3 linked regions of the Homo sapiens genome follow. The protein of the gene in region 3 purifies or fractionates together with the protein of the main gene of each other region. This does not show direct contact. Each region holds a gene or a part of one and is shown on either strand. Other genes may lie near its edges. The genes, in order: SEMA3C, METRNL and EPDR1.

Evidence for each region.
Region 1: the proteins of EPDR1 (region 3) and SEMA3C purify together in Homo sapiens (affinity purification with mass spectrometry; one large-scale study listed by BioGRID and IntAct). This does not show direct contact.
Region 2: the proteins of EPDR1 (region 3) and METRNL purify together in Homo sapiens (affinity purification with mass spectrometry; one large-scale study listed by BioGRID and IntAct). This does not show direct contact.

What each region holds. Positions count from the first base shown.
Region 1 is NC_000007.14:80,800,543-80,804,200, forward strand, and holds part of SEMA3C (semaphorin-3C isoform 2 precursor), read right to left. Parts: coding exon 3,564-3,658; intron 2,238-3,563; coding exon 2,123-2,237; intron 285-2,122; coding exon 215-284; intron 1-214. UniProt on the Homo sapiens protein: Binds to plexin family members and plays an important role in the regulation of developmental processes. Required for normal cardiovascular development during embryogenesis.
Region 2 is NC_000017.11:83,089,497-83,092,661, forward strand, and holds part of METRNL (meteorin-like protein isoform 1 precursor), read left to right. Parts: intron 1-3,165. UniProt on the Homo sapiens protein: Hormone induced following exercise or cold exposure that promotes energy expenditure. Induced either in the skeletal muscle after exercise or in adipose tissue following cold exposure and is present in the circulation.
Region 3 is NC_000007.14:37,944,491-37,948,148, reverse strand, and holds part of EPDR1 (mammalian ependymin-related protein 1 isoform 1 precursor), read right to left. Parts: intron 1-3,658. UniProt on the Homo sapiens protein: Binds anionic lipids and gangliosides at acidic pH.

The sequences.
Region 1 (3,658 bases), about 43 Mb from region 3:
AATCATTACAAATACTCTCTACAAAAGTATTTGGAAAGCATTAGTTTAGCTCCAATATATTTTGGTAATCAGGCAAAAGTAAATAAAATGGAAGGATTACATCCCAAATGACATGTAAAATTAAAAGTTGCAGAGAAGAATGCTTTTATAATAATTACTGTTACTCCATGAAGTTTATTGTTTAACTCATAAAATGTAACTGTTGAATAATTACCTTGATGTTGTAAAAATGCCATACACTAGTGTTGTCCTCGGGTTATCAGTTTCCAGCAGAAACACATCCTCTATAAAAAGGAAAATATTCTTTTAAAGTTTCTAAATATTAACTTCTTTGTTTTGAAAAATTTACCCTAAGAAAATAATTTCAACTCTGAAAAGTACTCTGCAAAAAGATATTCCTGTACCATTATGGTAATTTGGAAACAAATAATGATAGAAACACTAAATTAAATTAAATTAATACAGATACTAATGGAATTTATGAAAATTTTGTATCCTTGTGAAAACCATGCTAGTAAAATAATATTATGGGGAAAAAGTACAATGATATATTACATAATATGGACTAGAACCATATTAACCTTAAAAATATCCATCAGAATATAAGAATAAGATTAACAGTGAGTGTTACAAGAGGCAAAGCTGTAGAAATATTCTGGTGCTTCTTTCTAAATATCCTTTAATGTTAATATATTACTGTTTTAATTAAAAAAATTACAAATCTCAATTTCTTTTTGATCTAATCTTAGGAGCTGGAAGATGGAATAAAACTTTTTCACGGTAACTCATCTTACCATCAAATAGAACTTTTTGTGGCATATGGTCAAAATTGCTAGTGATACTTTTATTTAATGATAGCTCCTCTAACAAAAAGATGTTTAAAGTGTAGTAAGGCAAAAACAAAAGTATGCACAGTGAAGTGATAAATAACAGAATATGAAAGTAGATTTCTGATAGAAAACTCCAATTAATAATCAATTGCCATGATTATATGAAAGGCCCAGACATAGTGACAATCTTGCTAACAGAATTATTACTGAGAAACACAAAGAAATATGTATTTATTTTAAATTAAAAATGAATTTAAATGACCTCATAAGCAATAAATTTATAACCACTCAAACAACAAATTAACAATCACTAGTCCTTCCATATGTGAATAAAGGCTGACAATGTCTAGCTCTCCCTAAAAAAAAAAGAAAGACTGAAACATAAAATATATTCCCAAACATTCAGGGGAGTAGAATGAGCAAGTAGCCTGTTTCACAAAATGATACTTAGAACTTTTCTCTAGAAAAGCTTATCTAGAAACTTTTGTTCCATAATCAACATAATGGTTTTTGATCAGAAGAACGATATAGTTCATTACTATTAGAATCAGTAAATTTTTTCCACATGGTAACACAGATTTATAACTTATCACCTGTCTCAAAATCTGAGAATGACCATTATTTTACCTTCTAATGAATTAAGGTGAAAGAAAAGTCATTTACAAATGACATTTAGTAAATATGATGTGCCCTGGGATATTCAGATTAAAAAAATAAAAAAACTGTTCCTTGGCAGAGGGAATCAGACTGTCAGTCCTTATTCGACCTGGAAAGTGTAAGCCTCCTCATGTCACATTGAGAATATCTAATCTCAGAGTCACCAAGCAGAACTAAGAAGGGAACACAAGTCTCCAAATTTCTACTCTGACACTTTTTTCCATCCAAACTCTATCCTGTCCATTAGCTACAATAGTAAAAATATATAGCTGTATTTTCACACAAAATCAGAATATTAGATATTCTAATATACATGAAATAAATATTCATTTATAAAAACACAAACATATCATTACCTATACACACATTATACAAGTTACACCCCCAAACACACACATTCATTCATATATTATGGTGAATTCAATGAGCTAAATGTTTCAGCAGTGCACTCATGGGCGTAACAGATTACAAAATACTTAAGAAAATTTATGAACAGTATCTAGATAATTATTTTAAATTAGCATATTATTTATGCTGAAAATATGGAAAGTACATCTTCTTTTGAGACCTTATTTAAATATATAAACTTTACAAGCCTTCTTTCAGAAGCATTTTTCAATCTCATATGTATGTACCTAATTCATCAAAGTGTGTTTCTGGGCCGTCTTCATCTGTTACCGAGCACACCAGCCTCGCCTTTAAGAAAGTGGTCCACTTGTTGACAAGGCTACGCAGTCCACCAGTGTCATTCTAAAACCATTTTGTAAACATAATTCAGATTGCTTAAGTAAATATTGAAGCACATTAAAAATTCGACTTGTACTCTAGTTGCTTGGAGGATGAAAATCTGAAGAATGGATATGTTAACCACTTCTGCACATCAGTTGTCAAAGAGGAATATTTATGACTTATAGTATTTTATACAATAGTTATACTATTATTCTCTTATAGCATGATGTCAGCTGAAAATACATTTATTTGATAAATGTGTGACATAATTATTTCTAATTTTAACGATGTACAATGGAAGTATTTATATAATGTTATAGAAAATAGATCATTTAATCTGCCTTTCCTTGATAATTTATTGTCTTCAATTTGAACATAAATTATTATACACAGTGAGTTTTGCAGATTGTGGTCAGGAGAGTGATTATATCTTTACACAAAATGGTCCCCAACAGTTTTACATTCACTCCTTCATTTATCCAAATTATCACATAATTTTCAGTATTTCTAATCTGATGCCTAATTATACATTATAAGGAGAAATGGCATTTGGATCATTCACAAATAGTCTCCAGTGAAGACATTTTCTTCCTGTGTCCAAAGGCCTTTTACCCCTTCTGCTGACTTCGCTGCCTTGTTGCAAATGACTGAGAAACAGTTGAGCTCCATGATCAGTGGAGTATTATAATATATAAACTATTTTAAACACTAAGCACTTTAAGAAACATTTTTTCACAAAGGATGCTAATCATAAATAAGTCAGGATAAGTCTGTAAAACTCTATTATAGAAAGGACATCACAAATTTTCTTGTGTTGCTATGTATACTTATTGTTTCTACACAAGAGCATTTTGGTTACTGTTTTTAATTAGAATTTTATTAAAGCTTTTCTTAATTTTCACTATTTATAAATGGTTCCTTAATAATCATCTCTTACTGAGATATTTACTGTATTTTATTGACAACAATCAGTTTCTTTAGGTAATATGCAATTTAGCTATTGGTTTGAATACCAATGCATTAAATGAATATGCAAAAATTTGTCAGAAGTGTTTATTTGTTCAAGAACAAAAACAAAATATTTTCTTGAATTAAGATTTTTACTAAAATAGGGTATGTTTATCTCATATAACTTATTGAGGGTTAGAATTTGGGTTGGGGTTATAAACACTATATTCAATATAAAATGATGAATATTAAATATAATAATGATGATGAATAAATGTTACATTAAATGCTTCCCTCAATATTTTATTTATTTGTAATGGTTGATAATAAAAGCACGGAGATAAACCATAATTTGAATTTCTTGGTCTTTCTTCAAATCGGAACAGCATTAATACTTACAGGACATATTCGAGCAATCATGGAATGAATCTGTTTCGTGCTCCTGTTATTGTCAGTCAGTTTTTCTTTGAAGAAGAAGTACACCTTAGCATCAT
Region 2 (3,165 bases), on a different chromosome or scaffold from region 3:
TAAGTCCCCGCAGCAGCGTCCCCAACCCCACCCTGCCGGTCCCTCCCACCCTGTTCATGCTAGCTCCTGAGAGACCTGCCTGAGATGTCCACACCCCAGCCCTCCCCCTCCGAGGAGGATGGACCAGGATTCCAACCCTTTGCCGACCCTCCCCACCGCCCTGGAGACGAGGTGCAATGTGTCCGTGAGCAGCGCGTTCCGCAGCCTTTATGAGCCTGGCTCCTGTTAATAATTGTCTCCCGATTGTCTCCCGGCGTCCACCGGCGTCCACCCTGCATTCTCCGTGAAGGTGACTTCTGCTTTGTAAAGCTCAGAATCAGAACAGGGAGGTCTCCAGGGTGCTCCTTACGAGCTCAGCTGTCGTTGGGTCGTCTCCAGAGGCTTCTAGCAGGCGAGGCTGCAGGCACTGACCGTCCCCGGCCCCACACCCCTGCCGTCAGCCGGGTGAGCCAGGGCGGGGTACCCAGGGCACGTGAGGGCAGCGTCTCCATCCTCCCCCTCGGCCGTCCGCTGAGGTCGTGGGGCCGTGACTCACAGAGGGCGAAGTGCTAGGGCTTGCATACCCTCACGCGCCCAGGCCCCGGGGTGGGACGCATGTGGCTGGGCCTGTGGGCTCCCCTGCCCCAGGGTGGGAGCCACACACCCCCGCCCCGCCCCAGGGTGGGAGCCACACACCCCTGCCCCGCCCCAGGGTGGGAGCCACACACCCCCGCCCCGCCCCAGGGTGGGAGCCACACACACCCCCGCCCTGCCCCAGGGTGGGAGCCACACACACCCCCGCCCTGCCCCAGGGTGGGAGCCACACACACCCCCGCCCTGCCCCAGGGTGGGAGCCACACACACACCCCCCACCCCCCGCCCCAGGGTGGGAGCCACACACACACACACCCCCCCACACACACACCCCCCGCCCCACACACACACCCCCCGCCCCACACACACACACCCCCCGCCCCACACACACACCCCCCGCCCCACACACACACACACCCCCGCCCCACACACACACACCCCCGCCCCACACACACCCCCGACTGTGCTGCTGACTGTGAGGATGGACTTCCGGCACCTCCTGCCTCCTGCCTTTGCAGGACCGCCTGGCCCAGCCCCAGCTGCCATGGCTGCCCAGCCGGAGGGTGCTGCTCAGTGAGGGGACCCTCGGGTGGACTGGGGTCACCACGCTTCTGTCGTTGACCAGCTCTCTCTCAGCCGAGGCCACCTCCACTCACATGAGGCGCCCTGGGCTGGGACCTCTGGCCCTGTGGTACGGGGCAGGTGCTGGCGTGCAGTCTCACCTGTGGAGGATAAAAGTGCTGCCTGAAATTTGAGATCCCCCAGTGCTCCCTCCTTGTTGCTTCCGGACGTGAGTGGTGGTCTGTGCTGCTGGCCTCTGTCCAGCACGTGCCTGCATCAGGCCCAGCATGGTCTGCAGACCCCCAGCCGGCGAGTGGGATGGGGGTCCACATAGGTGAACTAAGTGTCAAGGGTGGGCCACACCCCGGGGCCCCCATAGGAGAGCGCACCGGGCGGCTTCCAGCTTGGGGGTCAGGAGGCCCCCGTGGTGGGGGCTGCAGTGTGAGTCTGTACACATCAGCAGGAAGGGGATTTGGCCAGAAGCTCCCATTCTGGAGGGTTGCTGGGATGGCAGAGGTGCCCCCCCAGTGCCAGGCTGGACCGGCCTCAAGGTGCTCAGCAGTGCCAGGCTGGACCGGCCTCGAGGCGCCCCCAGTGCCAGGCTGGACCGGGCCTCGAGGCGCTCAGCAGGCTGTGCAGTTTCTTTTTCCTGATACCTTAATGGAAGCAAATGCAGGAGGAGGTGGGTGGGCCGGTGAGTCAGGCACTGAGCCCGGCTGGGAGGCGCCCTCACCCCTGCCTGGCGGAAAGTGCTGGCCTTGTCTCTGGGTCCCTCCTACCTCCACCCTGCGGGGTCCACAAAGACCTGCGCTTGCCCAGTGCACCGTAGACTCCAGGGTCTCCGTTGACCACATGTGCAGGCCCTGAGGGTCCATGTAAGTTCCTGACCCCAGAAGGCCTCTGAGCAGCTGTCCCCGCCTTGGCCAAGGTGCCAGATATGTGTGCTGCCCTGTCCCCTGGGACCCCCAGTCACCAGCAGCTGGCTCGGGCCTGTACTCATCAGGCAGGTGACAGCTCAGCTCACTTCAGCCCAGCAAGGGCAGCCGGCCAGGGGTGCAGACGGCGTTAGCTTCTTCCAGGGCCGGCGAACCCCAAGTCAAGGTCGTCCCAGCTCTTGGCCAGGGACGTTTCAGAGCCTTCAGAACGTGAAATGGCACCGGCGAAACCAGTGCCATTGAGATTTCACGTCTCAAAGTTTCTATTGCGTTAGGAGACTTGGGGCCAAAACCTAGAGGCTCAGAACAGGTGAGGCCTTGAAACCTGCAATAAGAGCAAATAATAAAACCATGTTTTCCAAGTCCGTCCCGAGTGTAGGAATGCGGGGCGTGCAGAGGTTTCTGTTTCACAGTGGCCCGCCCATCTAAGAAACTGGGGCGAAGGGCAGGGCGAGGGCTGGGCCGAGGGGAGAAGGTTGTTGGGAAAGCCTGGTTTGGCCGGTACGGGAGCTCATTCTGAGAAGCCTCCGTGCTTTCCGCATTCTCTGGGGGAGGCCAGGCCCCGCAGGGTTCAGGGGCTTCAGAGGGGGTTCTGTGAGCAGGGCTTGGCTTGAAAGCCATTTGGGGCATGCACCTCATCCCGCGGCCAGGTGGCATCCGGGGAAGGGGCCGGGCCGATGGCCCTGACTGGAACTCACTGCCCTGCTGGGTGAGGCCCCACGCCGGTGGCAGGTGGACGCGTCGCTGCCTGCTTAGGGATCCCCTTCCTGGAATCTTGGCCTCGCTGGCCCTTCCAGCCACATGGGGGGTCCCGCGGGATGGGATCCTCCTTTTGGGTGCCGCTGCCGTCGCGACCCAGGGAAGTGGGCAGCAGAGCTGTGGGGAGTGTCTGCCCTTCGAGGAAGCTGGGAAATGAGGGTGGTCCCGGCGCCGTGGGCCGTGGAGGTGGGTTGGGGGCGACTCTGGGAGGTGGGGGTGCTCCTGGCGCCGTGGGCTGTGGAGGTGGGTTGGGGGCGACTCTGGGAGGTGGGGGTGCTCCCGGCGCCGTGGGCTGTGGAGGTGGGTTGGGGGCGACTCTGGGAGGTGGGGGTGCTCC
Region 3 (3,658 bases):
CAAGGAATTATGGGGGTATACTGAACATAGGACAAGAACACACTGAGGACTGGATGGACCGAGTGCCTGTGCTTCACTGCCTCCACTGCCGAGCAGTCATGAGTAAGGGGCTTTGATGCGCATAGCTGATCCGGCACGGGCGCAGCCCACATACCCTGCAGTGGCTGAGATGAGAGCAAAGACAAAAGCTGAGGCGACCCCAGAGCAAATGACTCCCTTAGCTGAGTTTCTCTCCATGCTCTCAGCCTCCTCCCGTGACCACCTGCTCACCCTTCCTGGGGAGTGACAGGGAGATATTCAGAGGCTGAGCCCAGGAGTCACCAGCCATGCAGTATTGGCATCAGTCCTGTATCTTCCTTAAAGCTGAGACATCTTGGTGTTGGGGGAAGCCTGCTGTGTTTCTATGCATTTCACTGTCAATCTAAAACTCAGGCCACAGCTGCTGGTCAAGAAAATGTGTCTTGCAGCCATGACCTCAGAAAGTGAAATCTGCAACACTTGAGGGCTGAAGAGCCTAGAGAAGTGACTTGTCATCAGCAAATAAAAATAGCCAACAAATTATCTGTGGCTTATGAGACCCAATGCACTAGAGGAGACTTCAGGGAAGACATTTGCTCTCCAGCCCAAGCCCGAGCTTAAAAACTATTTTCTTCGGAAAAAAATGTTAGAAATGGTTACTGTCTTTATAGTCAAAACACAGTCGTGCGTCACTTCATGATAGGCTTATGTTCTGAGAAATGTGTCATTAGGCTATTTCATCACTGCACGAACATCATAGAGTGCAGTTACACAAATCTGGATGGTACAGCCTACTACACAACAGGGCTACACAGTATGGCCTACTGCTCCCAGGGTACAAACCTGTACTGCATGTGACTGCACTAAATACTGGAGGCAACTGTAACACAATGGTAAGCATTTATGTATCTAAACATAGAAAAGGTGCAGTAAAAATATGGGATAAAATATAAAAAATGGTACGCATGTATAGGGTACTTGCCATGAATGGAGCCTGCAGGACTCGAAGTTGCTCTGGGTAGGTGAGTGAGTGAGTGAGTGGTGACAGAATGTGAAGGCCTAGGACATTTCTATACACTTCTGTAGGCTTTATAAACATTGTACACTTAGGCTACACTAAATTTATAAAAACTATGTTCCTTTCTTCAATAATACATTAATTTTAGCTTCCTGTAACTTTTTAACTTTATATACATTTTGATTTTTTAAACTTTTTGACTCTTTTGTAGTAAGACAGCTTAAAACACAAATTGCACAGCTATACAAAAATATTTTCTTTATGTCCTTATTTGATATGCTTTTTTCTATTTTAAAATTTATTTTATTAAAAAAAAAACTTTGTGTTAAAAATTACAACACAAACACAGATATTAGCCAGGCCTACACAAGGTTAGGATCATAAGTATCACCCTCTTTCACTCCCACATCTTGTCCCACTGGAAGGCTGTCAGGGCCAGTAACATGCATGGAGCTGTCACCTCCTATAATAACAATGTTTTCTTCTGGATACCTCCTGAAGGACCTGCCTGAGGCAGTTTCACAGTTACCTTTTATGTAAGTGGGAGCACACTCTAAAATAACGATAAAAGTATAATATAGTAATTACATACATGTGGCCAACAAACATAGGAAAAAAAGCCCAACATCACTGATCATTAGAAAAATGCACATCAAAAACACAAAAAGACACCATCTCATGCCAGTCAGAATGGCTATTAATAAAAAGTCAGAAAACAACAGATGCTGGCGAGGTTGTGGAGAAAAAGGAACACTTTTACACTGTTGATGGGAGTATAAATTAGTTCAACCATTGTGGAAGACAGCGTGGCAATTCCTCAAAGACCTAGAACCAGAAATACCATCAACCCACCAATCCCATTACTGTGTATATACCCCAAGGAATATAAATCATTCTATTCTAAAGATACATGCATACCTGTGTTCATTGCAGCACTATTCACAATAGCAAAGACGTGGAATCAACCTAAATGCCATCAATGATAGACTGAAAATGTGGATAAAGAAAATGGGGTACATATACACAATGGAATACTATGCAGCCATAAAAAGGAACAAGATCATGTCCTTTGCAGGGACATGGATGGAGTTGGAAGCCATTATCCTCAGCAAATTAACACAGAAACGGAAAAGCAAATACTGCATGTTCTCACTTATAAGCGGGAGCTGAATGATGAGAACAAATGGACGCGTCGGGGAAGCAACACACACTGGGGCCTGTTGGTGGAGCTTGGGGGAGGGGGAGCATCAGTAAGAATAGCTAATGGATGCTGGGCTTAATACCTAGGTGATGGGATGATCCGTGCAGCAAGATACCATGGCACACGTTCACTTGTGTAACAAATCTGCACATCCTGCACATGTACCCCTGACTTAGAATAAAAGTTGAAGAAAAAAAAGTATAATACAGTAATTACTTATATGCTAGAATTGTGTACAACTGACAGCACAGTAAGTTTGTTTACACCACCACCACCCCAGACATGTGAGTAATGCACTGCGCTACCACATACTATGGCTATGAGGTCACTAGGCAATGGAAGTTTTTCAGCTCCATTGTAATCTCATGGGACCACCACTTCATTGACTGAAACGTCATTATGAAGCACATCATTGTATTATTAGTAGCCGTATGCTTCAGGTTTCTATGAGGTAGTATGGAAATATAAACATGACATCATTTTACACCTTTATGTGTATCTTGTTTATTTCAGAAAAGATTTGAAACGGCTTACAAGGGTAAAAATAACCCAGACACATACCTTTAGAAATGAGAATGAATATAGAAAGAAATATAAGTGTGCATTTTATGAGATATTGCTCAAAAATGGAGCTAATTTTTTATAATATGCATGCAGGGTCAACGTAAAACTGTTAGCCCTTTGAAAAAGTTTGGGTTTGGATTGTCACTGTTTTCTCATAACCAGCTAAATCTCTGACACAATAGAGCCTAAGCACTGATTGAAGAAACACAGCAACATTAACCCAACTCTTAGAGCATTGTTCATTTGTAAATATGGGAATTGTTGTCCATACACAAATCCTGTCCTGTGATACTTTTAATGACCCGTGGGCCACCCAAAAAACAAGTTGTCTTCATTGTTCTCCTCACCACCAGCAATATCTTGTGCTTTCCCCAGTGCTAGATATCTGGGCTAGAAAGGCATTCCTAGCTTTTGCTGATATCCCTGTTGTGTGCTTCTCAGACTGCAATAGTTGTTCCCTGGAGAATATGTAGCCATGTGCAGGAGAGGGGGTTTCCTTCTTGAAATCATCGCCATCACTCCCCAAATCCACAGGATCACAGAAGTGTCATTAATATGGTTTGGCTGTGTCCCCACCTAAATCTCATCTTGAATTGTAGCTCCCATAATTCTCATGTGTCATGGGAGGGACCTGGGGGGAGGTAATTGAATAATGGGCACGGTTCTTTCCCATGCTTTTCTTCTGGTAGTGAATAAGTCTCACAAGGTCTGATGGTTTTATAAATGGGAATTCCCCTGCATAAGCTCTCTCTTGCCTGCCACCACGTAAGAAGTCCCTTTGCTCTTCCTTCTTCTGCCACTGTGAGTCCATTAAGCCTCTTTCCTTTATAAATTACCCAGTCTCAGGTATGTCTTTA